4 linked regions of the Homo sapiens genome follow. The protein of the gene in region 3 purifies or fractionates together with the protein of the main gene of each other region. This does not show direct contact. Each region holds a gene or a part of one and is shown on either strand. Other genes may lie near its edges.

The links.
Region 1: the proteins of MBIP (region 3) and ZZZ3 purify together in Homo sapiens (affinity purification with mass spectrometry; 6 studies listed by BioGRID and IntAct, with this or other methods). This does not show direct contact.
Region 2: the proteins of MBIP (region 3) and KAT2B purify together in Homo sapiens (affinity purification with mass spectrometry; 6 studies listed by BioGRID and IntAct, with this or other methods). This does not show direct contact.
Region 4: the proteins of MBIP (region 3) and TP53RK purify together in Homo sapiens (affinity purification with mass spectrometry; 4 studies listed by BioGRID and IntAct, with this or other methods). This does not show direct contact.

The regions. Positions count from the first base shown.
Region 1 is NC_000001.11:77,574,656-77,581,682, forward strand, and holds part of ZZZ3 (ZZ-type zinc finger-containing protein 3), read right to left. Parts: intron 6,415-7,027; coding exon 6,343-6,414; intron 4,974-6,342; coding exon 4,872-4,973; intron 4,215-4,871; coding exon 4,119-4,214; intron 1,566-4,118; coding exon 1,413-1,565; intron 1-1,412.
Region 2 is NC_000003.12:20,043,434-20,050,460, reverse strand, and holds part of KAT2B (histone acetyltransferase KAT2B), read right to left. Parts: intron 1-7,027. UniProt on the Homo sapiens protein: Functions as a histone acetyltransferase (HAT) to promote transcriptional activation. Has significant histone acetyltransferase activity with core histones (H3 and H4), and also with nucleosome core particles.
Region 3 is NC_000014.9:36,310,615-36,317,641, forward strand, and holds part of MBIP (MAP3K12-binding inhibitory protein 1), read right to left. Parts: intron 6,199-7,027; coding exon 6,079-6,198; intron 4,302-6,078; coding exon 4,077-4,301; intron 3,995-4,076; coding exon 3,898-3,994; intron 1,411-3,897; coding exon 1,345-1,410; intron 1,112-1,344; coding exon 959-1,111; intron 1-958. UniProt on the Homo sapiens protein: Inhibits the MAP3K12 activity to induce the activation of the JNK/SAPK pathway. Component of the ATAC complex, a complex with histone acetyltransferase activity on histones H3 and H4.
Region 4 is NC_000020.11:46,686,422-46,693,667, forward strand, and holds the start of TP53RK (EKC/KEOPS complex subunit TP53RK), read right to left. Parts: upstream 3,024-7,246; 5' UTR 2,994-3,023; coding exon 2,711-2,993; intron 811-2,710; coding exon 332-810; 3' UTR 1-331.

The sequences.
Region 1 (7,027 bases), on a different chromosome or scaffold from region 3:
TGGGTATTAAGCTATTAAACACTATTAGAGTCTTATCAAAAGAACTTATAAGCCAACTTAAATAGGCTACAACAAACCAAAGATGGGCCACTTTGAACACTAACAAAGGCAGTAACATCAATGAATTGAAATACATTAAATACATTTAGGGCCAATAGTTCATAAGAATACAAAAAATTTTTAAACCTCATTGGTCATCTTTGAAGGATATGAGAAAATGAACTCATTATTTTAAAAACCAGAAAACAGGCCAGGCATGGTGGCTCACGCCTATAATCTCAGCACTTTGGGAGGCCGAGGCAGGCAGATCACGAGGTCAGGACATCGAGAATATCCTGGCCAACATAGTGAACCCCCGCCTCTACTGAAAATACAAAAACTAGCCGGGCATGGTGGCACATGCCTGTAGTCTCAGCTACTCAGGTGCCTGAGGCAGGAGAATCACTTGAACCTGGGAGGCAGAGGCTGCAGTGAGCCGAGATTGCACCACTGCACTCCTGCCTGGGCGACAGAGCGAGACTCTGCCTAAAAAAGAAAGAAAAAGAAAAAAAAGGGAGAATTGAGCAATTATCCCACCTTTTCTATATGTACCTCAGAGTAACCAAATAGTTGACTAGGGGGCAGGGGGATTACTTTTAGAATAGTCCAGCAAGTAAATGAAGAAATGATAGCATAATCACTATTCTGTAACATCTAATGAATTAATCAATTTAGTCAATGATCAGTGGCTGTTATGCCAAAAAAAGAGACAACCAGGCTGATGAAAGTAAACGTGAAGTAGTCCTGCCCACCCTAACAAACAAATACATCTGAATCTCATCAATGCTCTTGACCTACTATGAATTTACAGGAAGTTCAGAAAACAGAGGAACAGATTAAATGACAAGAAGATGTAATCAATAAAATCCATACTGCAAAATTCTATAAGACAAATGAACCAGTTCTTCAACAAAAACATTGGGAGAGGGAAAAAAGGAAAGTGAAAGAGGGAGAATGAACCTATTGTGATTTATGGGCTTTATTTGGATCCAAACCCAAATGAAGAAATTAGAAAAAAAATCATGAACAGTGACTATATATTTCACTGTATAACAAATTACCTTTTATAAACATGATAATTATATTGTGTAATATCTGGGACTTGCTCCAAAATAATCCAGAGCAGAGTTGAGGTGGGTAGGGAGTAGAGATTAAAATAAGGTAGCTTCATGTTGATAATTGTTAAGGTTCATTATACTATTCTATTTTTGTATATGTTTGAAATTTTCCTCACAAAAGTACATTACTTAAAAACTATACATTTGACTTGTTCATTAAAAGAAACCAACATTCTCTGAAGAGTGGAAATAATTAGAAAATCCTACTCTCTTCTATACCTTGATGTATATAACAACTTGATGTGTATAACTTACTGATGCATCTTCAACAGCAGTGTTCATGTGGCTATGAAAACAAGATCGGTCATCATCTTCATCCATATACACTGGCGGTTCATGTGAAGTCATGAAAGTGGAAGGCTTAAAGAGATGCTTATTAAGAGGGTGCTGTCGTCTGCTTGTTGAAGACTAAGTAAGAAAACAAATTTTTAATTGGTTCAGTGAAAAATCATTACAAGAATCAAAAATATAAAAATACAAATGTTACTTCCAACAAGTCTATCAGAAGAATTTCACTCTATCCTTTAGCATACTCTTATGTTGTTGCTTTTTCTGTTTTCTGCGTTTTTAAAGCATAACTAGCTTTAAAAAATTTTTTTTAAATGTAGGGGAAATACCCCAACAACGGTAAAATGGACCACATGTTTAATATCTAGCTTATATTTGTATCCCCAGCATTTATCATACTCTTGGCAGTCAAATGCTGGCTGCACTGAATTCTTATGATCATCTTATAGAAGATCAGACAGGATGAAGTGGCCTATGCCAGACATAAAACTATCCAGTAAAAAGTAAAAGGAAAATTTCTATAACATTATGAATATCTGAAAATACTTATCTAACATTGATTGACTGCTTATTCTATGCCAGGGTTGTCCAATCTTTGGCTTCCCCGGGCTACATTGGAAGAATTGTCTTGGGCCACACATAAAATACACTCACACTAAAAAAAAAAACAAAAAAACAACAAAAAAAAAATTTCTTGTAATGTTTTAAGAAAGTTTACCAATTTGTGTTGGGCCACATTCAAAGCTGTCGTGGGCCACATGTGGTACGTGGGTCATGGGTTGGACAAGCTTGCTCTATGCCAATGTCATTTAATCCTTACAACATTCCTATAACGTAGTTATCATCACCTCTAATTTAAAAATGAGAAAACTGAGGACAGGGAGGTTAAGTTTCTTGTTCAGTGTGTTGCAGCTAGATAGTGGTAGAACCAGGATTATAAACTAGGCCTATGTGGTGCCCAAATTCTCACTTTCCACCACTATGCAGCCTGCCTGTCTTGATCAATAGCACAGTCACAAAGAACACCCTCAGCTACATGAAGAACCATCATTTCACCTGTTTCCAAATTTAAACTCTAACAATGGCAAGCAATCATTGTAAATATAGCTGTACTAGATCTTCACAGCCAAAATACAGTACACCTAAGGGAAAAAAACACATGTACGTTCTCCAGTATTCCTTTTGTTATCATTATCCAGTGTTAATGATGAAAACATGGTTACATCTATAAAATTAGCTTAGAAATTAACCATGAAAATAAGAGCTCTTACATTAAACACAGGTTAATGTAAGGTTCCAATATTCCACAGTTATAGGATGAACTCTACAAATCTACACAGGTTGTGCTATATTTGGTGGGAAACCCAAAATATTTAAAACAATTGGCAAATTAAAACAAGCTTCCAAAGCTCGGTTAAAAAAAATTTTTTTTTAATGTGTAAAACATGAAACTGTATAGACAATATTCTTAATGTAAAATTACATGAAATAGCTTCAGTATGGAAGGATAACAGCACTAGATATACTCTTAGCTTCTCTTTATGAGAAAGATGTCAGTGGTGGGGAGGGAAAAGTAACAGGATAACTTATTAAGAAAATTTAAAACAGCCAATTAGGTGTCTTTATTTTTTGCGATTACAAGAACGAACAGCTGGGACTGCAGGTGCGTGCCACCACACCCGGCTAATTTTTGTATTCTTAGTAGAGACGGGGTTTCACCATATTGGCCAGGCTGGTCTTGAACTCCTGACCTCGTGATCCACCCGCCTCGGCCTCCCAAAGTGCTGGGATTACAGGCGTGAGCCACCGTGCCCGGCCGAAACTGGCTACATTTTAATGTAGTGTCCTGTTTGGGAAAGAAACAGTAGCTTCTCCACTGTAGAAAGCAACAGAGAAAAGTGGAAAAAGTGTGGCATCAGAATGGGAGAGAATCAGTGGTTCCCAGACTTAGCAGCTAAGCAACTAGATAATTCACTCAACATACCTGAGGGCCCAGTTTCCTTACCAAATAAAAGGTTATAGAACAGTAGAGTCTGGCTCAGAGCCCTCAATATAACAGCTAGCTATTAATATTATGTCAGTAAAGTGAAGATGATAAGACTACTTATATTTCAAGAATTGTAGAAAGGATTAAATACAATATTTTATTTTTTTAAAGATACGGGACCTCACTATGTTGCCTAAGTTGGACTCAAACTCCTGGCCTCAAGTGTTCCTCGTGCCTCAGCCTCCCAAGTAGCTGGGACAACAGGTGCACACCACTGTGCCTGGCTTTAGAATATCATAATAAACCTTTCTATTCTTGGATTTATGTAGCATTATCTACAAAACAGAAATTGATCTATTAAATTTATTAAATGATTGATTTATTAAATAATCAAATATCCTAAAAACTTTACCCTCACAAAGGCCTTTCTAACATATTTTGAATCTAAAATCTTTCAAGTAGCACTCATTCACATTACTCCAAAGAAAATAATGAAGAATCATGAATTTCACTGAGCAGCAATAATGGAGTCCTTACCCTCCACTTTTGCACAATATAAGGAAATGCTTAGAATGAACAGAAGTTTTAAAATACAACACTATTCTGTCAAATGTGTAGATTTTTACATAGCAATTCTTACTTTAATAAATTTAATCTACAGTTTACTTTCATGTATTTTCTTTTACCTTTTTGGAGTATATATATAAGTTTGGTGTTCTGCCTGGTACTGGAATGCCAGCTTTAGTTAGCTTTATGAAATACTTCTGTACTCGGCTGGCAACCTAAGGAAACATGACAAGTCTCTTAACACAATGAGATGACATACAATACCTGAGTCGTTTTTAAAAATTAAAACGTACATGAGTATCTAATGAATGCTAAGAATTCAATACTCATCATGAATCTAGAATTAACAATAAACTGCCACCAAATACACATATATTTTAAAATCTAGGCCAAACAAAAATTATTCAAGTAAATTTAAATTTGATTCTAAAGCTAAACACATATTTCAACTTGTGAACACTTACATTTGTAGTATAAAAACACATCTATTAATATAGATGGGAATATGAAGGAGTAAACTGCAAGATACATTTTTAGAAAGACAACCAGGAAACACTAAGGCAATGAAACAAATCTGTTTGCTCAGTATAACCAAAAAGTATACAATTAGTATATTTAGTAAGCATTCAAGAGAAATTAAGTCCATTATATGTTCATTTTTTAATATTTCGTAATGATCCAAAGCAGAAGTATCTCAAGTTGTTTCTGAAATCAACGAAAATATATACAATTTTTTTAAAAAAACACCACATACTACAGCACTCTGTAGCTGAAAGTGTTATGGCAGATCGCCCAATGTCAGCTGCATTATTCTCCTTTATTAAAAAACTACCAAAAGCATACCAGCAATCTGCAGTCATCTCCTCAATTACCTGTTTTGCTGTCCTGTTGCCCAATTCATCTGCTATCTTCTGCCAGCGTCGAGATTCTACTTCTTCAGGAGGGTATTTGATGAGTAGCTGTTCCAGCTTTTTCTAAGCCATACCCAAGACCAAATTTAAGAAAATATGTATTTAATTTTAAATATTGGATTTCTAAATAAATACATTCACATTTCATTTCAAAATGTAATACTCTCTCCCACCTTTGGGGGTTACGTAATTAGAAATCCTCATGGTAGGAAAAATTTCTAGTTAGAAACTTAAGACTTCACAGGGAACAATGAAATTAGAGAATAAACTTATGAAAGAGCTTAGAAAAGTTTTCTATTCACATAAGTAAAAATATCTCATAAGAAAACAGAAAATAAGTAAACAAATTGGTAGATTACACATTTTAGTGATTTCCACTGAAATCACTAAATCCACTGAAATCCAAGAAAAGATGGTCAATCTTTTCTTACTTTTCTTTCCCCTACAGTTTTAACAAAAACGTGTAAATTCACTTAAATTTCGACTATTAAAAGAGGCTTTTCCTTCTTTTGTATGGTCCTTTATTCAAATATTTGATTTTAATATTCCTTCTTGTCTCCTGTATCTTCTCATAGTCCTAAAGATGCAGAAAAATCTGGATGCTTGAAATAAATAGATTTCCCAAAGCTTTTTATAAACTGTTAAATGTATAGCTGTGGGGTTAATAGCCATATGAGACAAAGATGTGCCTCAAACTTCACCCACTAACAACCCTAGCCATTAGCCAAAAAACAATTCTAAACTGTATGCCAAAACTGACTTGACTTCCTCACCTCCCTTCGACAACAAAAATAAGAATGCACTTTGAAGCTCAGCTTTACTGGCCTCAGGTTTTTCTCTCTCCCAAAGCTACATTACAAAAACATCTATTTTATTCTATCCACTTCTACTCCCCTCTCAAAACCCAGGTTCCTTCTTTTAAAATTATCCCCAAACAAAAGTTTACACATTCTCAAAATCCAAAATTCTTGACGTATGCAAAAAGGTATACAAAAATAAGCCTAAATATTTAAAACTCATGGCTAACAGGCATCACATACAACAATATACACCTGACTCAAAATACAGGCTCTTTTCTTTTTGAGATGGAGTCTCACTCTGTTGCCCAGCCTGGAGTGCAGTGGCATGATCCTGGCTCAATGCAACCTCTGCCTCCTGGGTTCAAGCAATTCTCCTGCCTCAGCCTCCCGAGTAGCTGGGATTATATATGCACACGCCATCACACCCGGCTAATTTTTGTATTTTTAGTAGGGTTTCACCATGTTGGCCAGGTTGGTCTTGAACTCCTGACTTCAAGTGATCCACCCATATCAGCCTCCCAAAGTGCTGGGATTACAGGCGTGAGCCACTGGACCTGGCCTCATAATACTGACTCTGATGTTAACTGTTTACTTGTTTTTTTAAGCCTACACGATTTTGAAATATTTATTACCTGTTCTTCAACAGTCCACAACTGGTTAAATGTTTCAGGTTTGGTATCATCACACAAGCGTCCTCTTATCATCTGCACATAAGACAAGGCTTTTGTCAGAGAGAAAATAACAACACCTATCCTTTGATATAGCCAAATAACACGCAAATTGTGGAATTTTTAAATTAATTTCAAAATATTTGAGTAAATTTGTTTTTTAATGTATATGCTTTTTTTTTAACTGTTTACAAAATGCCTTCACATTATTTTATTTTGTTTGGTTTTATACTCTCAGCAATCCTGTGAAATACATAATAGTACTGTAACTTCATTTTTTAAAAAAGGGAAAGGAAATGTGGGCTCAGAATTGAAAAGTAACATGTCCACTGAGGTTCATCTAACTAAGAGTGGCAAGGCCAGGACTCAAATCCTGGTCACATTTCACTACACACAAAGGAACTACTATTTTTAGAGTAAATACTATGTGTCGGATACTGTACTAGGCACATTGCATATACTACCTATTTAACCCTCACCAACAACCCTACAAGATAGGTAATATCAACTACATTTTATACAAAAGGAAACTGCAGCTTAGAGACTTCAACGTAAATGATGTCTGAAGGTTCACGGCTAGTAAGTTAGGACTCCAACCTAAGTTTCTCTTAATTTCAAAGTTCTTATCTCCTTTATCTTCCAGTGAAAG
Region 2 (7,027 bases), on a different chromosome or scaffold from region 3:
AGGATTACCAGGAGTGGGGAGGAGGCACAAGAGAACCCTCTGAGATGCTGAAAATGTCCTACAGCTTTATCTAGGTGGCAGTTGCATAGATGTATACACATGTAAAAATTAATTGCGCTATAAACATGATTTGAGCCCTTTATGTGTAATGCAACTAAAAGTTTTTTTTAATGACTCCTTTTTATCATGTTGAGATACTGTTGTGTGAACCGTCTTATATAAACTGGTTGGGGGACTTCTAAATCTTTTTTTTTTTTTTTTGAGACAGGGTCTCACTCCATTGCCCAGGCTAGAGTGCAGTGGTATGATCTCAGCTCACTGCAATCTCTGCCTCCTGGGCTCAAGCAGTCGTCCCACCTCAGCCTTCTGAGTAGCTGGGACTATAGGTGCAAGCCACCACGCCCTGCTAATATTTGTATTTTTAGTAGAGACCGGGTCTCACCGTGTTGCCCAGGCTGGTCTCGAACTCCTGAGCTCAAGCGATCCGCCTGCCTCAGCCTCCCAAAATGCTGGGATTACAAGGGGGAGCCACGGTGCCCAGCTGGACTTCTAAACTTTCAAGACAGTCAATTTCTTAACTTTCTGACACATTTGGCACCTTCTATAGCCTGAGTAGGTGTCTCTTTCATCTTTCTTCAACAGAGAATTCTATTGGGCCAGCACAGTGACCAGTCTTGATTGTCAACTTTAAAACAATCAAGAGCATGTATATGTCTGTCCTGGGCCAGTAATAAAGAATGCTTATTTTGTTTACTTTATGGCCTGCACAGGTTCAATGGACTAGAAAATCCTTTGAACATACCTCTCAATTGGAGTACAATAAATTTCAAACGACAGCAGAATGCCTAAAACAAATGTAATCCTCTCAAGAAACCATTTGGAAGAAAAGCGACCCCCTCTACCCCATGCGAAAGTTTTGGAAGAGGAGGCAAAATGGTGCATAGGAAAGAGGATCTACTTGGGCAGACGCTTTCATGAGTAACCACTGTAGCTTGAAGAAGTCACTTAACCTCTTTGAGTCTCAGTTCCCTGCTAGTAAAATGAACTCCCTTACCTTCCACTTTCCCCGGGTAGAAGAATCAAATGTCGTGAGACATAACACTTTGGCAAACACACAAACTGCTAATACCAATGGAACGTTTTTTACAAATAAAATTAAATAGACATTTGTGGAATGCCTAGGTTCCAAGAACTTTCATATATCCTGAAGTATTTAATCTTCACAATAAGTCAATGAGGTGGCACCTGGACTCCTACTTCACCAAGGAGGAAACTGAAACTAGGCAGTTAAGGCGATGCCCGGCCAGGCGCGGTGGCTCACACCTGTAATCCCGGCACTTTGAGAGGCCAAGGTGGGCGGATCACGAGGTCAAGAAATCGAGACCATCTTGGGCAACATGGTGAAACCCCGTCTCTACTAAAAATACAAAAATTAGCCGGGCGTGGTGGCGGGGGCCTGTAGTCTCAACTACTCGGAAGGCTGAGGCAGGAGAATCACTTCAACCTGGGAGGTGGAGGTTGCAGTGCACGCCACTGCACTCCAGCCTGGCGACAGAGCAAGACTCCGTCTCAAAAAAAAGAAAAGGGGGGCGCTGCCCAAAGGCACCCAGCATAGAGGGAAAGAAGCAAGGATTCCCCTCCTTCTCTCCCCATGTGTGAGTAGCCAATGTGCCTGTTCTAATTCCCCGTTTGAATCAGATGACCACAGCAGAAAAGCAGCATGCAAGAGTAGGAAACTGTTGACAATTTTTCCTAAATAGCCACTTTTCTCTTAACGACAGACTAACTAAATCAGAAGCCACTGAGCCTTGAAAATCCTAATTTTATTGGCACTACACGGAGTATTCATCTGAGAAGCAGATGTGCTGACTGCTCCCAGGCATCTTACAGGAAAGTTTATATTTCACCCTCCATAGTCACCATGATGGATCAGACCCTATGGATTTACTTAACAACCGCAGAATTAAATCTGGCTAACACCGAGGCAACTGGGTTTAAATCTGCCAGATGATTTTTAAAAACAAAACAAAACAAAAACCTTAAACAGCGCTATATCACAAATCGCTATTTCCAAGCACACACTTCCTAAAACAAAACAGTCCTCAGCAGATTTTGCTGTTTTGCCCTGTAAAACACTTTCTCAGTTATATAAAACTACAAATTGCAATCTGAAGGCTTTGCAGGCTTGAATTTCCATCTTCCCTGAAAATTTCTGAGGATACAGAATTAAATTTGGACATCTTTCTCTCAGGCTTTTTGTATTGTGCCTGCCAAATGAAACATTTTTTCCTTTGTATGCTTGGCTTTATGACACTTACCGCATTTTAGAGAAGTCACCACAGGATACAATTGTATGCAATAAACTTATGTGGCTAAAGACTGATCTTTTAAAACAACATCTTATCCACCTCCCTCCATGCTTTGTACTTTGCTGTGACAATATTGCCTATCTGAAGCCTTGCCAAAAAGATATTTCTAATTTAGTTTCTGTTTGCAAACCAACAACCAATTTGATACAAAATATCACTTTAAAAAGGTATTCATGGGCCTTGTGTGGTGGCTCATGCCTGTAATCCCAGCACTTCAGGAGGCGCAGGCAGACAGATCACTTGAGGTCAGGAGTTTGAGACCAGCCTGGCCAACATGGTGAAACCCCGTCTCTACTAAAAATACAAAAAAATTTAACAGGGCATGGTGGCACTTGCCTGTAATCCCAGCTACTCAGGAGGCTGAGGCAGGCAAATTGCTTGAACCCGGGAGGTGGAGGCTGCAGTAAACTGAGATCACACCACTGCACTCCACTCCAGCCTGGGTGACAGAGTGAGGCTCCGTCTCAAAAAAAAAAAAAAAAAAAGGTACTCACGGCAAGAGGAAACTTTCGGGGATGGAAGAAGTCATAACACTGGGTTGTGGTGATGGATGCACAACTGCATACATTAACTCAAAAGCAGCATAGTTACAGTGGGCAAGTTTTATGATCTATAAATTATACCGCAATAAAGCTGTTTAAAATATATGCCCATGATTCACGAAGTGAGATTTTTCAGATTTTAAGTGTTAGTCATATTCATATTAAAAGCATTGGTTTAGGCTAGGCGTGGTGGTTCATGCCTGTAATCCCAGCACTTTGGAAGGCCAAGGCAGGCCAATTGCTTGAGCCCAGGAGTTCAAGACCAGCCTGTTAAACATGGCGAAACCCAGGTTGGCGAAACATCTCTATAAAAAATACAAAAATTAGCCGGCCATGGTGACGTGCGCCTGGCCAAGTAGCCTCCCAGCTACTTGGGAGACTAGGGTGGGAGGACCACCTGAGCCCACTGCACTCCAGCCTGGGAAGCAGAGTAAGACCCTGCCTCAAAAAAGCCTCAGAAAAAAAAAAGGGGGGGGCAAAACAAAAACCATTGATGTTTTTTCTTTCTGTGCTGCAAAGGTATTTGTCTAAAACAGGCTTTCTCAACTTCTGTTAATTCTATTAATATTTTGGACCAGATAATCATTCGTTGGGGGGAGTTGTCCTGTGCATTGTGGGATGTATAGCAACATTACTGGCCTCCACTCACTAGTTGCCAGTTGCATTCCCTCCTCCCAACTGCAAAGATTGAAAATGTCTCCAGACATTGTCAAATGTCCCTTGGGAGGTTAAATAGCTCCTGGGTGAGAGCCACTGCTCTAAATGCTGACAAATGAAAAAGACAATTTGCTCTCTGGGGGAGTGACTGACAAATACAAAGGTGTTGGGGGCGCTCTCCAACTATAAGGCTTGTTCTAGTGCCCCACCCACCAGCCCTTAGCCAACAGAGGATGCTTTTTGTTTTGTGGTGGCACATCTACCTCTGCTCTCTGTATATTCTACAACCAGTGCTACTTCTAGATTATAAATCATTATTATTATTATTTTGAGACAAGGTCTAGTGCAGTGGCATGATCTCAGCTCACTGTAACTTCTGCCTCCCAGGCTCAAGCCATCCTCCCACCTCAACCTCCTGAGTAGCTAGGGACTACAGGCACGCACCATCATGCCCGGCTAATTTTCGTAATTTTTGTAGAGACAGGGTTTCACCATGTTGCCCAGGCTGGTCTCGAACTCGTGAGCTCAAGTGATCCGTCTGCCTTGGCCACCCAAACTGCTGGGATTACAGGCACAAGCCACCATGCCCTGGGCCTATTTTTTCAATTAAGACTAATTTTATAGTCCTGTACCCATGAAACTCCTTAAATGTGGCACCTTGCCGAGAACCCAAGCAACTGGGTTCTCCATAAATGCTTTGTGGCCACTGACTCTGATATACGAGTAAAGCACCAGGCAATTCCGTTTATTTAGCCAGCATTAACCTAGCATCTTTATGTTCTAGGAATTCTGGGGACACTTTTTTCTTTTAACTTTAAGGTTGAAGTCATGATCACCACTTTATACATGCAGTCATTGAGGCTCAGAGAAAAACTAAGTGACCTGTGCCTAAGATCACACAAGTGGCAGAGCTGGGGTGGATTCAGGACTGAGTCTGTTGCTCTTACTTGACTTTCAAGTTAACAGCGTCTCCCCTACCTTCTGAGGGCTTGCCATGGGCAAGACACCATGCTGGATGTCTAATACAGCCCATTTTAAATCCTCACTGTTATGCCATGAGGCGGGTAACATCATTCCTTTACAGACAGGGAAATAAAGGCTTAAATGAAATCCTTATCCAAGGTTGCAGAGCTGGATATCCCAAAATTTGAATTCAGATTAGCCTGAACTCTGAAGCCCATGTTCTTAGCCACTATACCCTATTGCCTCCTCTTACGTATTAATATAAATGGCCTGCTCCTTTAGGAAGGGTTAGTCAATGGGTTTTGTTTCTCTTTTGAAGTTAGTAGATGATATACTTTAATTCAAGAAGATTTGGATTTGGCCTACTCATACATTCACTTGGGGTTTCTTTTATAACATTAAAAACCCAATCCCAAGCAGGCATGGTGGTGCAGGCCTATAGTCCCAGCTACCCAAGAGGCTGAGGTGGGAGGATCACCTGAGTCAAGGAGTTCAAGGCTGCAGTGAGCTATGATCGTGCCAGTGTACCCCATCCTGGGCAACAGAGCAAGACCCTGTCTCTAAAATAAATAAATAAATAAATAAATAAATAAATAAATAAATAAATAAATAGGCCAGGTGCAGTGGCTCACACCTGTAATCCCAGCGCTTTGGGAGGTGGAGGCAGGCAGATTGCTTGAGCCCAGGAGTTGGAAACCAGCCTGGCAAACATGGCGAAACCCCATCTCTACCAAAAAAAATACAAAAATTAGCCAAGTATGGTGGTGCATGCCTGTGGTCTCAGCTACTCAGGAGGCTAAGGTGGAAGGATCACTTGAGCCTGGGAGGTACAGGTTGCAGTGAGCCAAGATCACGCCACTGTACTCCTGCCAGGGTGACAGAGCGAGACCCTGTCTCAAAAAAATAAATAAATAAATAACCCAATCCTATCAATATCTGTGGGACACCTAGAACTGTCCTATATGACAAATCTCTACTTAGTTGTCAAGAAGTGATTAAGTTAAAATTCCACAACTGCTAACATCACAGCTAATCATTTCTTCCATTTTCTCTTCTCTGGTTCATTCGCTTAGTCAATAACCGCATGGCTAAGAATCTATTCAAAGATTCTAAATGCACATCAAATAATCATACAAATCATAAAAATCATAATATAAGCACCAGGAAGAGTACAGATGAATTTGGATAATTTCTAATGGGAAGGCTGCTCAGGGGGGTAAAGGAAAGGCAAGGAATCTGAGTTCTATAGGAAGGGTTGGGAGTTAATTTTAAAATGTGGAAAGAAGAGCTTCCAGTCCCAGTGAACAGCATGTGCAAAGCCCCTCACCCCACCTCACCCCCGACTAGGTGAAAGGAAACCATGTGCCTGAACCCTCGATAAGGAGCCACAGATAGCAGTAGCCAGGCCATGCAGGGCCTTGTGGACCACAATAAAGAGAAATTAAAGGGCCTGAAGTGTGGGTATAACATGGTCAGATCTACTTTATTTTATTTATTTATTTATTTTTTTTTTTAGGGAGAATCTTGCTCTGTCACCCAGGCTGGAGTACAGCGGTGCAATCACAGCTCACTGCAACCTCTGCCACCACGCCTGGTTAATTTTTTATTTTTTGTAGAGACGAAGTCTCACTATATTGCCCAGGATGGCCTCAAATTCCTGGACTCAAGTGATCCTCCCGCCTCGGCCTCCCAAAGTGCTGGGATTACAGGTCTGAGCCACTGCGCCTGGCCTAGATCTACATTTTTAATGAACACAGAACCAAAATGACTCTGAAGCAACCTTTACCAGGACACAGTTCAAAGATCTGGATCCTGCGAAACAAGTTTGTTTGTTTCTTTTCTTTTTTCTTTTTTTTTTTTCTTTTTCTATTCTCTGGGGTGTGGCACGTCACCCTGGCTGACTTAGCTCCCTTCTTTTTTGGTTTCGTTTGTGAAGTTTAAAGGCCAGATTTATATCAGGCCTGGGACCTGTTTTTCTTTCAAAAGCCCCCCAGTGAACTACCTTATCTCTTTCTAGATCCCTCCTCATTCTCTAATCTCTCTAATCTAACTTGCCAAGGGGCCTGTGGCAAAGGTAGAGCAATCTGTCCTTTTGGGCTTGCTCATATTAAGTGCAGAAACAAGCTGAGAGAGAACCACAGATTTTGCTCTCTTACACTCCCTCGTACCCAATCAAGTCCAGTTAAATTTTTTTTTTTTTTAAAAAAAGCAAATCTGAGATAATGTCACTCTCCAGGTTAAGATTCCTGCACTCCTCAGTGCCCTCTTGGCCACGCACCCCAGCCGGTGGCCCTAGGCAACAAAGGTCTGGCTCAGTTGGCCCACCTCCAAGCTTCCACAACTGCTTTCAGTTTCTCCACTACAAGAAGCTTCACCCCACCCCACTCTGCCCTGCCAAGAGTTCTTAGCAGCCACTGACACTTCCTCCAGGAAGCCAATCCCACCCTACCAGTGCCCCAGTCTATGAACTGTCCTGCTCTGGGTCCGCAACTACTC
Region 3 (7,027 bases):
GGACTATCTAGCAGGAGACAGACATTAAACAAACAGAACCATGATAACTGCTTTAAAGGGGAGCAGGGAATACCAGGTGCTATATAAGATTATACAAAAGGTGAATCTGCACTGGTCTAGGATTAGGAAGAAAAAGCATGGACAGAAGGGCATGAGTATAAAGATCCTAAAGCAGCACAACGAGTGGGAGATGGGAAGCCCAGAGGTGTAGCTGGAACTACAGATGTGGACAATACTATTTAAAATTACAAACCCCCTTCAATCCCAATCTCCACATTTTTAGCTGGGAAGAAACAAGATCAAATTTGAGCTTTAGAAAAAGCAATCTGGCCACAGGGTAGAGATGATCTAGAGGAGTCCAGTGGCAAAGAAACCAGTAAATATCCTTCCATCAGTCCAAGCCAGAGATCACAGTGGCTTCAACTCTAGTAGTAGCAGTAGAGATAAGACAGAAGTGGGCAGATTTGAGAGATATTTATTTAGAAAACAGAATCAACAGACATGGTGACTAAATGGAGAGGGAGACTCAGTCTCTGCACCCAGTGAGGACTTGGGTTTGAGCAGGGTGCAGTAGTGACACATGATTGTAGTCCCACTGACACAGGAGGTTGAAGCAGGAGCATTACTTGAGCCTAGGAGTTCAAGTACAACCTGGGCAAGACTGGACTATCTCTTTTTTCTTTTTTTTTTAGAGTTGTCACTTAGTATCTTAGGCATGTTTGCTTGGGCTCTTTAAACTTCAATTTATTTATCTGTACAGTGATAACACCACCACCATCTCAAAAGGGTACTATGACCTTTTAAGTGAATTGACATACACATAACACTTCCTGAGTGACTGGCACTTACTGTTCAAGAAATGTTAGGAGCTAAATGAAAATTTGGTGACTAAATGAACTGCAATTTTTTAACCATTTGCAAAGGTTCATTATGAGGTGCCACTTAGCACTTTGCTTACCTGTCTGTAACCGCAAGTGGGCCTCAATATTTTGTAGTCGTTCTTCTACAGCCTGATTACCACAGTCTCGAAGCATGCTGTTAGGTTTATGACCTGACCCTGGAATTCCTTCAGGTCTAGTCTGTGGTCCGTATGTATTCACAACTCTAGAAACTAAATTAAGAAACTTTTGAGCCTATATACATTTGTATTTCAAAAATCAGAAATTCTTATTCCTTAACAGCACTTTATATTTTTTTCATAAAGACCATCTAACCACAAGTATGAAGGACGGCAAGATGTTTTTGTTTTAAAATAAAATTTAGATGGGAAAGTTATTTCTATTCCATTTTGCTAATAATCTAGACTTCTGTCAGTGACTCAGATGTCATGTGGTGGTTACTTACCTTTTACGTGACTTTTAAATCCGGGGTAAGGGGTAAAAATCGCATCAGTTCTTGCACAACTATTTTCTAAGGAGAATTTAGATAAATATAAGTTTAAATATATTCTTCCCTTCAAATGTATGAGATTTTAATAAACTTTCAATAATTCATATTAACATTTTACTCATAATAATTTTAATAAATAATAGTAACAATAAATTACTATCACACATAGGATAGAATTTAGTGACCTTCTTTACCTGTCAAAATTTATCATAATATCTAATATTCTTACCTAATGTTCAGATTTATATACAGAAAAGCCATCAACATTAAGTGGCACAAATTGATACAATTTTGAAAACCAATGTCACTATTTGGGCCACTGGAGAAAATAATCTACCATAGAGTATTTAAATTCTACTTCATCGTAGAAATAAAACTCATCATTTTTACTAGAATTCTTTTAATTCAGCATTTTTTATTTTAATGACCAAATTAGTGAACATCCAACAAAAAGAATTATTTAACATTTTTATTTCAGAACTCCACACAAAGATGACCTCAAAACCTCAAGTACACATACATTTCCACTCTACCTAGATTTCCAGTGCTCATTTTAAAAACCCTTCATCACAAAAGTCATCTACTTCTTCTTATCCCACCACTTTTCAAAAAAGTTTCATTTTAGTAAAGGTCTATTGTGAAAATTTGTCCCTATTTTTTTCCAAGCTGAAAAGTAGTTTCTTTCAAATTAAGTATCAATGCATAAATTACAAAAGGGGAAAATTGGAAAGATGTTAACATATAATACAACTAATTAACATAATTGTTATATATTAACATACGATACTACATAGTAATAATATATACTTATGTTTGAAATAATGTTTAAAGGCCACACATTGGCAGTAAATCTCCTGTAAAATTCCCCTGAATATTTTGTAAAAAATGGCTGGTAAATGAGATTCTTTAAAAAAAATTATTTTTTCCCCCCTATGAAATTTGATTTTTAAAAATTCCACTGCTTATAGTTAGGTTAAATTTGTAGGTATTAAAAGGAACACACTAACATATTAAAATACATTTGTATTTTTTTCAGTTGAACTTTCCTTAGTAGTTCTGTTGATAAATCAAATAGTATGCATAAAATTCCAAATCCACTTAGCTTTTATATCTAGAGACTAAATAGACATCTTTCCTCCTTTTTTTTTTTTTTGGAGGCACCTCAAAATATGCTTAAAGGGCCATCCTTTCTCCATTCTCTTCCTACCATTTCATGGGGCTAAGGGTTAAAAAAAGAAGCTATCATCCATTCCAGAACTATATTCCAAACATATAGATTAACTGACCATCAGTGAGAAATTCAGCATGGTGTGAGTGTATGACTGCTAGTCACTCTCCACAGCAATTCTTGCTAGCACTGTTTTGAGCCAGCAAAGAATTGAATGGGCCAAGGAATCCTGCTGAGCATTTCAATTCTCGTCAATTTCTATCCCCTGGTGGTTTATAATAATAGAGTTAGCAGGGAGAACAGAGGAATAACATTAGTGACACATGTGCTTGCTCTCTCAACAAACCCTTTCTCATAGTCGCTTGTAGTTGGTTGTAGTACCTGAGATTTTGCCATTGTTGCACCTGTTCTGAAAAGCTAACAGGAAAATATACCAAATTTAGAGATGCACATGTGTAATGTTAATAGTAGCACACAGCTAAATTCAGGACCCAATACCAGCCTATATTATTTCATTAAGAGAATCAGTGTACCAATGTGATATGAGTCATTTCTAGGTTCATCTGACAATTCTATGTTCATAATAATTAGCCATGAGATATTAGAGGCAACAAGAAACATGTTCATTCCAATTATGAACTCTTCTCCATAATTTTTCCTAAGAACTACTTGTTCTGATTATTACTATGGTGCCTGAGTATAATCTATGGCACTGCATTGCAATATTTTGTATTCTGCAGCATACTTGCAGATTTGTAAATGTACTATAGCATCAAGTAGAGAGGTAAAGGTGAATCAGATGAAAAACAGCAAATGTATGCACTATGGCAGAAAGGAAAAAAGCAAGACACCATGGTCTTCATGATAAATTGGTTGTATCGTGACACAGGACATTTCAAACAGCTCAGGAGTAGTGAGAAAACTGCTCCCTCTGGAGGAATATTAACTTTACTAAGTTCACTTACGTATTAACATCATGATTTCACAGTACATGTATAGGTTTGAAATTCATAGAGCTCAGTTCCTTTTACTAGTGAGATAGATCAACCTTCTCACTCGTACCTCACCTTCATTTCCTAAAGGAACTTTAAAATAATCTTCACCTGTGATAAACACTTTTTAATGTTAGCATTTACTTTGTGTAACCAAAATGAAAACCAGTTTGCAATATAGTCTATTATTAAGCAGAAGGAAACTCTACTGTCTTAATTACTAACTAAATCCATGAAATAAATTGAATTGTGTTCTAAAAGCTATTCATTTAAAAAATAAATAAAAGATTAGAGCAACTATAAAAATTGTGCTTAAAACCCTATGAAAATTAATTTCCAGGTAGTTACCTTGATTACAATCAATAACATTGCAAAATTCCCTGACGTTGTTTTCATTGATTTCAGCTTGCTTTCTTTCAATAAATGCAGATATTCGTCTGTCAATCTACAAACAACAAGTTTTAACAGTGTAAACATAAGATTTTTTAAAATAATACCCTCTCGCCCCCGCCAAAAAACCTTCTTACTTCTGCTTTTCCAGCCTTTATCTGAACTACTTCTGGATCAAAATGGATCTGTGTCTTTTTCACATCTCTTAAATCACTTTCTTTGTGCTTTTCTTCCTCTTGTAGGTCGCCAATGGAAAATTTGTCATTTACTTCATTTTTGTTCCCCATTTCTGTTCTTCCTATCTCTTCAACAGCAGTTGTATTCTCCTCTTTAATCGGAGACTGAAGTTTTGCTAAAAAAGGCTGAGAACAACACAATTCCATCTGCTGAGGTTCAATCTGACCAAAATTAATTACACACTTAATATATTTACATAAATTTCTGCTAAGTAAATGAAATACTTAATATCAGTTAATAAATATAAAAAGTTGGTATACCAGGACACATAGATCTGACCACATATAAGTACTCACTATTCTCTGCTATTGTAACCATTATCATTTGCTATAAATTTGTTTTTTAAAAAAGGAGAGAGGAAAAAAGAAAAGAAAAAAGAAAAGAAAACCTAAGGAAATTTAAAATTTTCTTTGAGAGAATCATTCTGTCACTCATCTTTTATTTTGTGCCAAATCAAAGCCTTCAGCCTCTGGCACCAATGCCACTTAATTAACATGTCATTCAAATGCCTCCTCAGAACACTAAGGCTTAGTATTTTTCCTCCTTAACACGAGAGCTAGTGCTCTCACTCAGCAAAGCCCTGCATTATCACTGTATCACTGGAGATTCTCCACTTGAAACTGCAGTTGGCCAATGTGAATGAGGAAGCATAGACATGAAATATATAGGTGTTAGGCTGAGTGAACACTCAGACTTTTCCTGACATGGCAAGATATCTTTTGGTCATAAAATTAAATTTTAAAAAAGAAAACGAACAAGAAAAAAAAAAGATCTATAGCTGAAAACAGGCAGAGGCCTATCACTATACTACAGGGGGAAAACCCCTGTTGTAGAATTTAAACTATATTACTCATTTACTGTTCCCCTCCCCCACTCCCCACAATGAGGTCTCATTTGAGTTCTAGAGCTCACTGCTCTGCCCTTTAAAAACAGGGTTAACTATTACTTTTAACATGAAACAGTTAAAATTTCCCACAAAGTCAATGAATGGAGGGCTGAAAATTAATGCCTATTCCATTAGTCAAAACACACTAACACTAATAACGTTCCAATTATTTTTTTCATACCTACAATTTTGCTTCCATTGTTCGCTATACTACTCTTTTGAAATCTTATAACACCTTAATCACAGTAAACTGACCAATCCAGTTTTTCCACTTATCTTTTTGACACTTCACATTTTACACTTTGATTAGAGATAAACTGCAAACTTACATCAATTATAATTGCAAAGATGTTCAATTAGAAACCAGCAAGGTCATAATACTGTTCAGTTATTAACATGAAATATTTAAAAATATAACAACACTATTATAAATACCAATTCAATATTAACTTCTAATATAAAGAATGAATTATTTCAAACTGTTAAGGAAAAGAAATGATAAAATAGTGACTGGCTACTTACTAAGATGAGACATTAATGTCATAGAAATTACTTTCTTTTTAAAAACTATGCTGAAACTGTTTAATTGCAATAGACACTCCAGGATGTGTCATGCTGGGATAATGCCCCTTCTTGAACCACTGAAAGCACTCCATGAGCCTCCAAACTCACCCAAGGCATGGAATCATTATCATAGCATGACACACACCTGCCGTGTCTTATTGCTTAATTATAACCCACCATAGATGGAACTGTATTGAATTTTCAGTGCAGGTCTAGAATTGAATAGAATTGCATTCATTCACTCATACCCACATTGGTCTTTTGGGCTATATTCCCTTAACTGTCCTGATCACTACTGAAATTAACAGATTTAGATTAAATCCGGATGTAAATAACGTTTTATTAGCAACACTATTAATATAGTGTTTAGAACTGTCAAATACTCCAACTAACTTAACCACAATCAATTTCTATTTTCAATATCGGGTTATCATTTCTAACAAGAAATTTACCTGTAAATATAAAATGTGTTGTTCAAGTGCACTAAAGAGCAATGCAGGCTGGAATGCCGAGAGGCTCTGGAGCTTGTTCCAATCGATTGTAATTTTCACCACATCATCTCTGAGGTCAAGCTTCAAAGGGGCAAACCAGCAACATCACAAAAATTACACGATTAAGCTCTACATATGGAATTGTCACAAAAATAAGATTTCTAGAGTAACGGGTCTATTTTGCTCTAAGTTATCAAGTTTTTAATAATACACTGAAATGCTCTACCCAGTTACCATTTCAAAAGGCCAAGAAAGCTACAGATTTTCATAAAAAAACAAAAACAAAATGACATGTCGTTCAAATTCTATTCTTAGGTCTGTGTAATGGGACCATTTTAGAGGTAAAACCATTCATGAAAGATGAAAAGATGAAGGCTCTTTTGATACTTCAATATATACAAACCTTTGGATGGAGTCCAATATAGGCTTGCCCTATTCAGAATCCTACTACTTCTAGCTCAGAGCCTTAAACAGAGGAAGTACAAGTGTTTTGTGAAAGTTTTAACATGCATCTTTCTCTTTAAGTATGTACACAAATACATATCAGAAATATATCATTATTCTGATGTCCTCCAAATCACATTTTTAGTTTTTTAACTTTTAACCGATTTTTAAACTAATTTAAAAGTCAAGATTATTCATACATATAAAGTGTAGGGATAAATGGCAACATGTTTATTTCAAATAAAAAACTATTATTTAGCAATGGAAGTCTGAAGCTGAAAAACAAAGACTTCTCCACCACAGTGAAATAAGTTGTCAGACTGGATGAAATGTCCAGATCTTTTGTAAATGCTAAGATGTGACAGCTCATTATATGGAAATTTCTATCAGTTGGTGATCTAATAGAATAAAATCATATCCAGAAAACTACCAAGAACCTGAATATAAGATTATTATCAAAATGAGT
Region 4 (7,246 bases), on a different chromosome or scaffold from region 3:
CAACTGAGACTTCATCCTTGTCTCACAAGGACTAAAAAGAGAATAATGTTCTCATTATGTGGTTCAATGCCACACCCATGTATCTGAGATATACATGTCACAATCTGGGAGAAGCCTGTCCTCAATTTACTTTAAATACCCAATTCTGCCTAGAACATGACTTAGACACATAGTAAGCTCTTGAGTGAAGTGCAGATGATAATGACACGATCACATACCACTTAAAAATATCTTAACACCTTTACTTAGATCTCATCTCATACTTGTAGCATTTCTTCAAATTTACTTTGAAAAAAGAGCTTCACTGTGTGTGGTTGTCATACACATTCTTCTACCCAACCATGGACCTCTTTCTTCCTCTCAGGCGCACTTCATCTAATTTTTTTAGCACTGGCCTGGCCTTTTTGGAGGAGGTGGAGTAGCTCTTCAGAAAGGCTTCAAACACAGTTTCAGTGTTGGGATGGGTACTGAGGAAGGCCTTCTCCAGGACATAGAGGTCTACTCCCTTATCCTCTGGAAGTGCTGAAATGAAACTCAGCCCAAAGTCTATGAGCACAATGTTCAGCTGTTCCAGGGGGGGTTTCAGGAGCATGTTGGAGGTGGTGAGATCACCATGAATGAGGTCTTCATCGTGCATTCGAGCCAAAACCTGCCCAATTGTCTTGGCTAAGTTGGAGAGACCCTGGGGAGTTTTTTCAGTCTCCATAGTGGACTGAATATAATCTCGAACAGTCACTGAGCCTTCAATTTCTTCCATATATAAGCAGTTGGAAGCATAGTCCACAAAAAAGACAACTGGGGCAGATATTCCTGAAATCAAGACATAAGTGGTTATTGGGTTGGATTTTTTTTAACGGGTAAACTTAATTTTCAAAGATTAAGCCAGTTTTTCCATCTATATCTACTTATTTCAGGACTATTGAGGAATGCTACAGGAAATGGTACAACTGAACTCATCTGGAATATTCCCCTGCTCATGCCCACTGCAGGACTATGCCTGGGAACACCCCACAGCTAAACTGAGGAGGCCATAGCTTCCTCCTCCCTTCCAAACCACCCTTTCTCACTGGACTTCATTTGTCACACTCACTCTCTAAAAAACAAACAAAACAAAGGCCGGGTGTGGTGGCTCATGCCTGTAATCCCAGCACTTTGGGAGGCGGAGGCAGGCGGATCACTTGAGGTCAGAAGTTCGAGACCCCCATCTCTACTAAAAATACAAAAATTAGCCAGGTGTGGTGGCTCACGCCTGTAGTCCCAGCTACTCGGGAGGCTGAGGCAGGAGAATAGCTTGAACTCAGGGAGCGTAAGTTGCAGTGAGCTGAGATTGTGCCACTGCACCACTCCAGCCTGGGTGACAAAGTGAGACACTGTCTCAAAAAACAAAAACAAAGAGCAAGGCACAGCCCAGTCAGAGCAGTTTCTACTGATGAGGACACAAACAGGAGGCCAAGCAGTGTGCTAGCTTCGAGGTTCATCTTCGTAGTCAGAGAGGACAGGGTTCAAATCCCAGCTGCTTTTCTTATTAGTTGTCTAATCTAATCTTAAAATTACATTAACTTCTCTAAGCCTCAGTTTCTGCTACTATACAAGGAACAATAGCTCCAATAAACTCAATGAATCTTTACTGAAAGTCAACCAGGCTCAGTATACTTTTCTAGAAACTGAGAGATGTTATCAATGGGGATACAGCAATAAACAAGCCAGCTATAATACAATCTCTGCTTAACGAAACAGATCATGAGGCTGAAAACAGAAATATGAATACACAAATAACTTCATGAAATCTTAAGTCTCTGAAAGGGCAGCAATGTGTCCGCTTGTTGGCTACTGAATATCCCCCACCCAGATCTCCCAGCACTTAACAATGTCCTGGTACCCACTGGTACCTAAAAAATACTGATAAAAGAAAGGCAAGAAGCGTAAAAGTAAAAAGCCAGGGCTTCTGAGTCAGAGGCATAAGGAGCTGAGGGCCTGGACCGGCCACTTAGTAACCGTGTAACCTTGGGCAAGTTACTTCTCTCTGAGTGTCACTTTCTCATCTGAGGACAAAGTTTATGGTGCTGGCGCACAATGATGTTTAATGAAAAAATAGGCAATTTAATGAAATCCAACATTTATTGGGCACTATGTGCCAGGCACACATTTGAACATAATACGTGACACACATACCTCCTCTAATGGTCACAACATCCCTATGACATGGATACTGCTACTATGTCTCCCATTTTACAGGTGAGAAAACCGAGGCTGAGAGGCTAAATAACTTGTTGAAAGGCTACACAAGCAGCAGAGTTAGTATTTCAACCCAGGGAGCCTGGCTCCAGTGGGGCAAGTACTTGTCATTACATGTTTCTTAAAACTAATAAATGGAAAGATAATGATCGAAAATTGAAACGAGTCAAATGGGGAAACCAAGGCTCAGGGAAGTTAAACATGTTCAACATTGAGCAATAATGACAGATCCCAGATTTGAACCAGGCAGAACGGCCTCAGGACAAAAGCTTGACGCTGCATGGCCACGTGGTTTCTTAAGACTTAACGAATGAAAAAAGGGATGAAAGAATAACATTTCCGAAAGGCCGGACACCGCAGAAGGCACAGAAGGAGAAACTGAGGGAAATCCAGCTTCGGAGCGCAGGGGAGTCCCTCACCCGCCCAGGCCCCAGAGCCTCGGGGCCGCCCACGCCGGGATCCCGGCCCACCTTACCAGCGCGGCGACAGCGGAGGAGCGCCCGGGCCTCCTGCACCGTCCGCCGTCTGCCAAGCCGCGCCTCCAGCGCCGGGTGCCGGTAGCCCTTGGGGAAGCGGTGCTTGATCACCGCCGCGCGGCCCTGGAAGCGGCCACGGAACACGCGCGCCTCGGCACCCTGCTTCACCAGCTCCAGGCCGCTCAAGAAGCGGCTGCTCCGCTCCCGGGCTGCGGCCAGAGCCTCAGCCTCCGGGGCGGGCTCCTCGCCATCGGCCGGCGTAGTAGCTCTGGCCGCCGCCATGACTGCTCGGCGCAACAGCTCCAACCGATCAGCTGTCTCTGAAAACTGTCGCGATGCTTCGGCTCGCTTCGGAAATCCTGGGACTTCTTCGGCAATCCTGGGACTTCTTCGGCTACCCGAATGCGTCCACCCCGGACACTTCCGGCCTGTAAGTGGTTACGCCTCCCAACTTTTCGGCTCTCTGAAGCCTGAGGTTCCCTGCAGGAAGGGCTCTTGTGGCCCCGCCTTCCGCCTCTTCGGCTATCTCCGTACACGTTCGGCAACGCTCAGTAAGTGGCTCTTCCCGACTCCTTGGCTCTCCGGAAATCTTCGGTGACTCTCGCAGCCGGCTTTGGGGGCCCACCTCTCAGTTGGTCGTCTCTTTCCGGAAAACTTCGGCGCCTCTCGAGAAAAACGTCGGACGCGCTTTGCTCTCTTCAGAAGTCTCTTCCGGGACAGCTGTACCCTCTAGTAGTCTCTTTTTGGAACTCCTCTTCCCCTGACTCCTACATTCCCCCCAAAATGTGCTCATACAAGTCAGAGTCGGAAGGGTCAGACAATGAACCATGTTTCCGACATCCTCTTAAGTGCTAGGATAACTACCATTTAGTGCATTCAGAAGAAATAAGGTTAAATGATGAAAATCCTTACAGAAAAGAAAATTGAGACTCAGAGCTGGCAGAGGGGGTGGTAAGATGGGGTGGGGAGTGGGGGCTGGGGAATCCGGGAAAGTCTTCCGGAGACAGAACCTAAACTGAATTGGGAATAATTAAACTTTTTCAGTTTCTACCTGTTTCATTACAAAGCTTATAATAACACAGGCTGTAGCAAATTCTTACAATACGGAACTTTGCACACGCACACATAAATAAATAAACTACCTATCCCCCTTGTGACACTGCTGGCCGTTAGTTTCTTTCCAGAATTTTCTTTCATTCAGTGTGCACACTCACACATCGTTGTGGCGTTTTTTCCAACATAAATGACATCATACTGTGGGTTCTTTGGCAACTTGCTTTTCATTTTCCTAAACAATTTATCTCAGACTATATTCCATATCAATACATACAGAGCTACCACGTCCTTCTACCTGGTCAGGCAGTTTCTTGTTGCTAAACAGTTGTTTCCAGTTTGTTGTTTCTCAGGAAAACACTTTACTTACTATTGCCAGTTTATTATAAAAGATAGTATAAAAGATAAAAATGAACAGCCAGATGAAGACGTACATAAGGAAAAGTAAAAATTGTACGTGTTTATCGTAAGTAACATGTTTTGAAATATGTATACATTGTGGAATGGCTAAATCCAGCTAGTTAACGTTACCTAACATACTGATCATTTCGGGGGTGAGGACACTTAAAATCTATTATCTTAGCATTTTTCAAGAATACAACCCATTGTTATTATCTATAGTCACCATGTCGTGCAATAGATTTCATGAATGTTTCCTCCTATCTAACTGAAATTTTGTATCCTTTGACCAACTTCTCAAAATCCTCCCTATCTCCCTCCCCCTACCCCACCGCCTGGTAACCACCATTCTACTCTGCTTGCATGAGTTCAACTTTTCTTACCTTCCTCATATAAGTGAGATCATGGGATATTTGTCTTTCTGTGCCTAGCTTATTTCATTTAACACAATATCCTCCTGTTCCATCCATGTTGCTGTAAATGACAGCATTCCATTCTTTTTAAAGGCTGAATAGTATCCCATTGTGTATATAAATGTACCATATTTTTATCCATTCATTTAGTGATGGACACTCAGATTGAGAATTGTGAATGATGCTGCAATTAACATGGGACTGCAGACATCTCTTCAATATACTGATTTTGTTTCCTTTGGATATGTACCCAGTAGTAGGGTTGCTGGATCATAAGGTAGTTCTATTTTTATTTTTTTTGAAGAACCTCCATACTGTTGTCCATAATGTCTGTACTAATTTACATTCCTATCAACAGGGTGCAACGGTTCCCTTTTCTCCACATCCTTGCCAACACTTATTATCTTTCTTATGTTTTAAAATAGCGATTCTAACAGGTCAGAGGTGATATCTCATTGTGGGTTTAATTTGCATTTCGCTGATGATTAGTGATGTTGAGCATTTTTTTTTAATATACCCGTTGTCCATTTTTATGTCTTCTTTTGAGAAAGATTTCTTTGGATCTTTTGCCTACTTTTAATTCAGGTTTTGTCCTTTCTTACTATTGGATTGTATTCCTTATATATTTGGATATTAACCCCTCATCAGATGTATGGTTTGCAAAAATTTTCTCCCATTCTGTAGTTTGTCTTTTCACTCTTTTTTTTTCTTTTTTCTTGACTGTGCAGAAACGTTTTAGTTTGATGCAATTCCATTTGTCTATTTTCACTTTTGCTGCCTGTGTTTTGAGAGTCCTACACAAAAAATCGTTGCTCAGGCCAATGCCATGACATTTTGTCCCTGTTTTCTTATAAGAGTTTTATAGTTTTGGCTCTTACATTTAAGTCTAATCCATTTTGAGTTGATTTTTGCATATGATGTAAGATAAGAGTCTAAATTCTTTCACATGAATATCCAGTTGTCCCAACACCATTTATAGAAAAGACTGTCCTTTCTCCATTACGCGTTCTTGGCATGTTTGATGAAACTCAATTGACTATAGTGCGTGGATTTATTTCTGGGCTCTCTATTCTGTTCCATTGGTCTATGTGCCTGTTTTTATGCCAGTGACATGCTGTTTTGATTACAATAACTTTGTAGTATATTTTGAAGTCAGGCAATATGATGCCTCCAGCTTTGTTCTTTTTGCTCAAGATTGCTTTGACTATATGGAGTCTATTATGATTCTATATAAATTTTAGAATTTTTTATTTCTACAAAAATGTCATTGGAATATTGATAAGAATTACATGGAATCTGTAGGACATTTTAACAATGTTACTTCTCCAGTTTTGTTTCATTTTTTTTTGTTTTGTTGTCTCTTATAAACAGTGCTGCAGTGAGCAGGCTTATCCAGCCATCTTTGCACACATGAATGTTTCTGAGGACATCTTTCTACAGGTGATATTGCTGGGTTGTAGGTGACAAGCACTTTGAAACTCGACTCCTCAGCCAAACTACCCTCCCAAAGTTTTGTGCCTATTTATGCTTCAGTCAAATTCATGTCTCATTTTCCCATATCTTCATCTTCATTGAGATTCTCAGGTGCTGGAACGCTCAGTCAGGGGGTGGAGAGGGAGGGTGCTCAGGTTCCAGGCAGTGAGAACAGACACAGGGTAGGATTGGGTTGGACAAGGACCAGCAGCTCCACATGGCTGCTGGCAGGTTGGCACTGGGGACAGGCTGGGAGCTGAAAGAACAAGGACAGTGGCCTGGTCCCAAAGGATTTCTCTTGCTGGAGGAGAGGTGCTGTGAGCCTGGGGTGACTACACCAAGCATGGCCCTTTGGGGCCTTGACCTCTGGCTGCAAAATATGCAGCTGAGCTCTGGGTAGAACAGCCAAGCAGTAAAGGGGAGGGAGGGGTCTACTTTTTAGCCCTTTCTGAGCCTGAAAGAGAACCTATGGCCTCTTCTTCACTTCCCACCCACCAGCACCAGATGCCCATTCAGTGATTTATTCACCAATTAATTTAATAAATATTTATTGAGTGACTACTATAGGCCAGGTACTGTGCTAGGCCCTGGGGACAGAGCTGTAAACAAAATAGAGAATAATTATTACTGCCCTCATGGAGTTTACATTCTAGTGGGTGGAAACCAGCAATAAACAAATAAGGAAAATGTGTCATTGACAGGGGCTAGCAGGAGATAAATCCAGCAGGAAGGGGGATGGGAAGGATGACGTGCATCTGGGCTTGCCAGGGACAGCCCCAGTTTTTGCCTGTTGCCCTGGCATAACTATTATTAGTGCCCCCGCCTTTTTTTTGAGAAGGAGTCTCACTCTGTTGCCCAGGCTGGAGTGCAGTGGCATGATCTTGGCTCACTGCAACCTCAACCTCCCAGGTTCAAGTGATTCTCAGGCCTCAGCCTCCTGAGTAGCTGGGACTATAGGTGTATGCCACCATGCCCAACTAATTTTTTTGTATTTTTAGTAGAGATGGGGTTTCACCGTGTTGGATAGGCTGGTCTCAAACTCCTGACCTCAAGTGATCCACCTGCCTCGGCCTCCCAAAGTGCTGGGATTACAGGCGTGAGCCACTGCGCCCAGGCTAGTGTCCCCTTTTTACTCTCAAAAGCATTCTAGTTTGGATGATACAATATATGGTTACCCTATGTGTAGTAGAGTGGGGG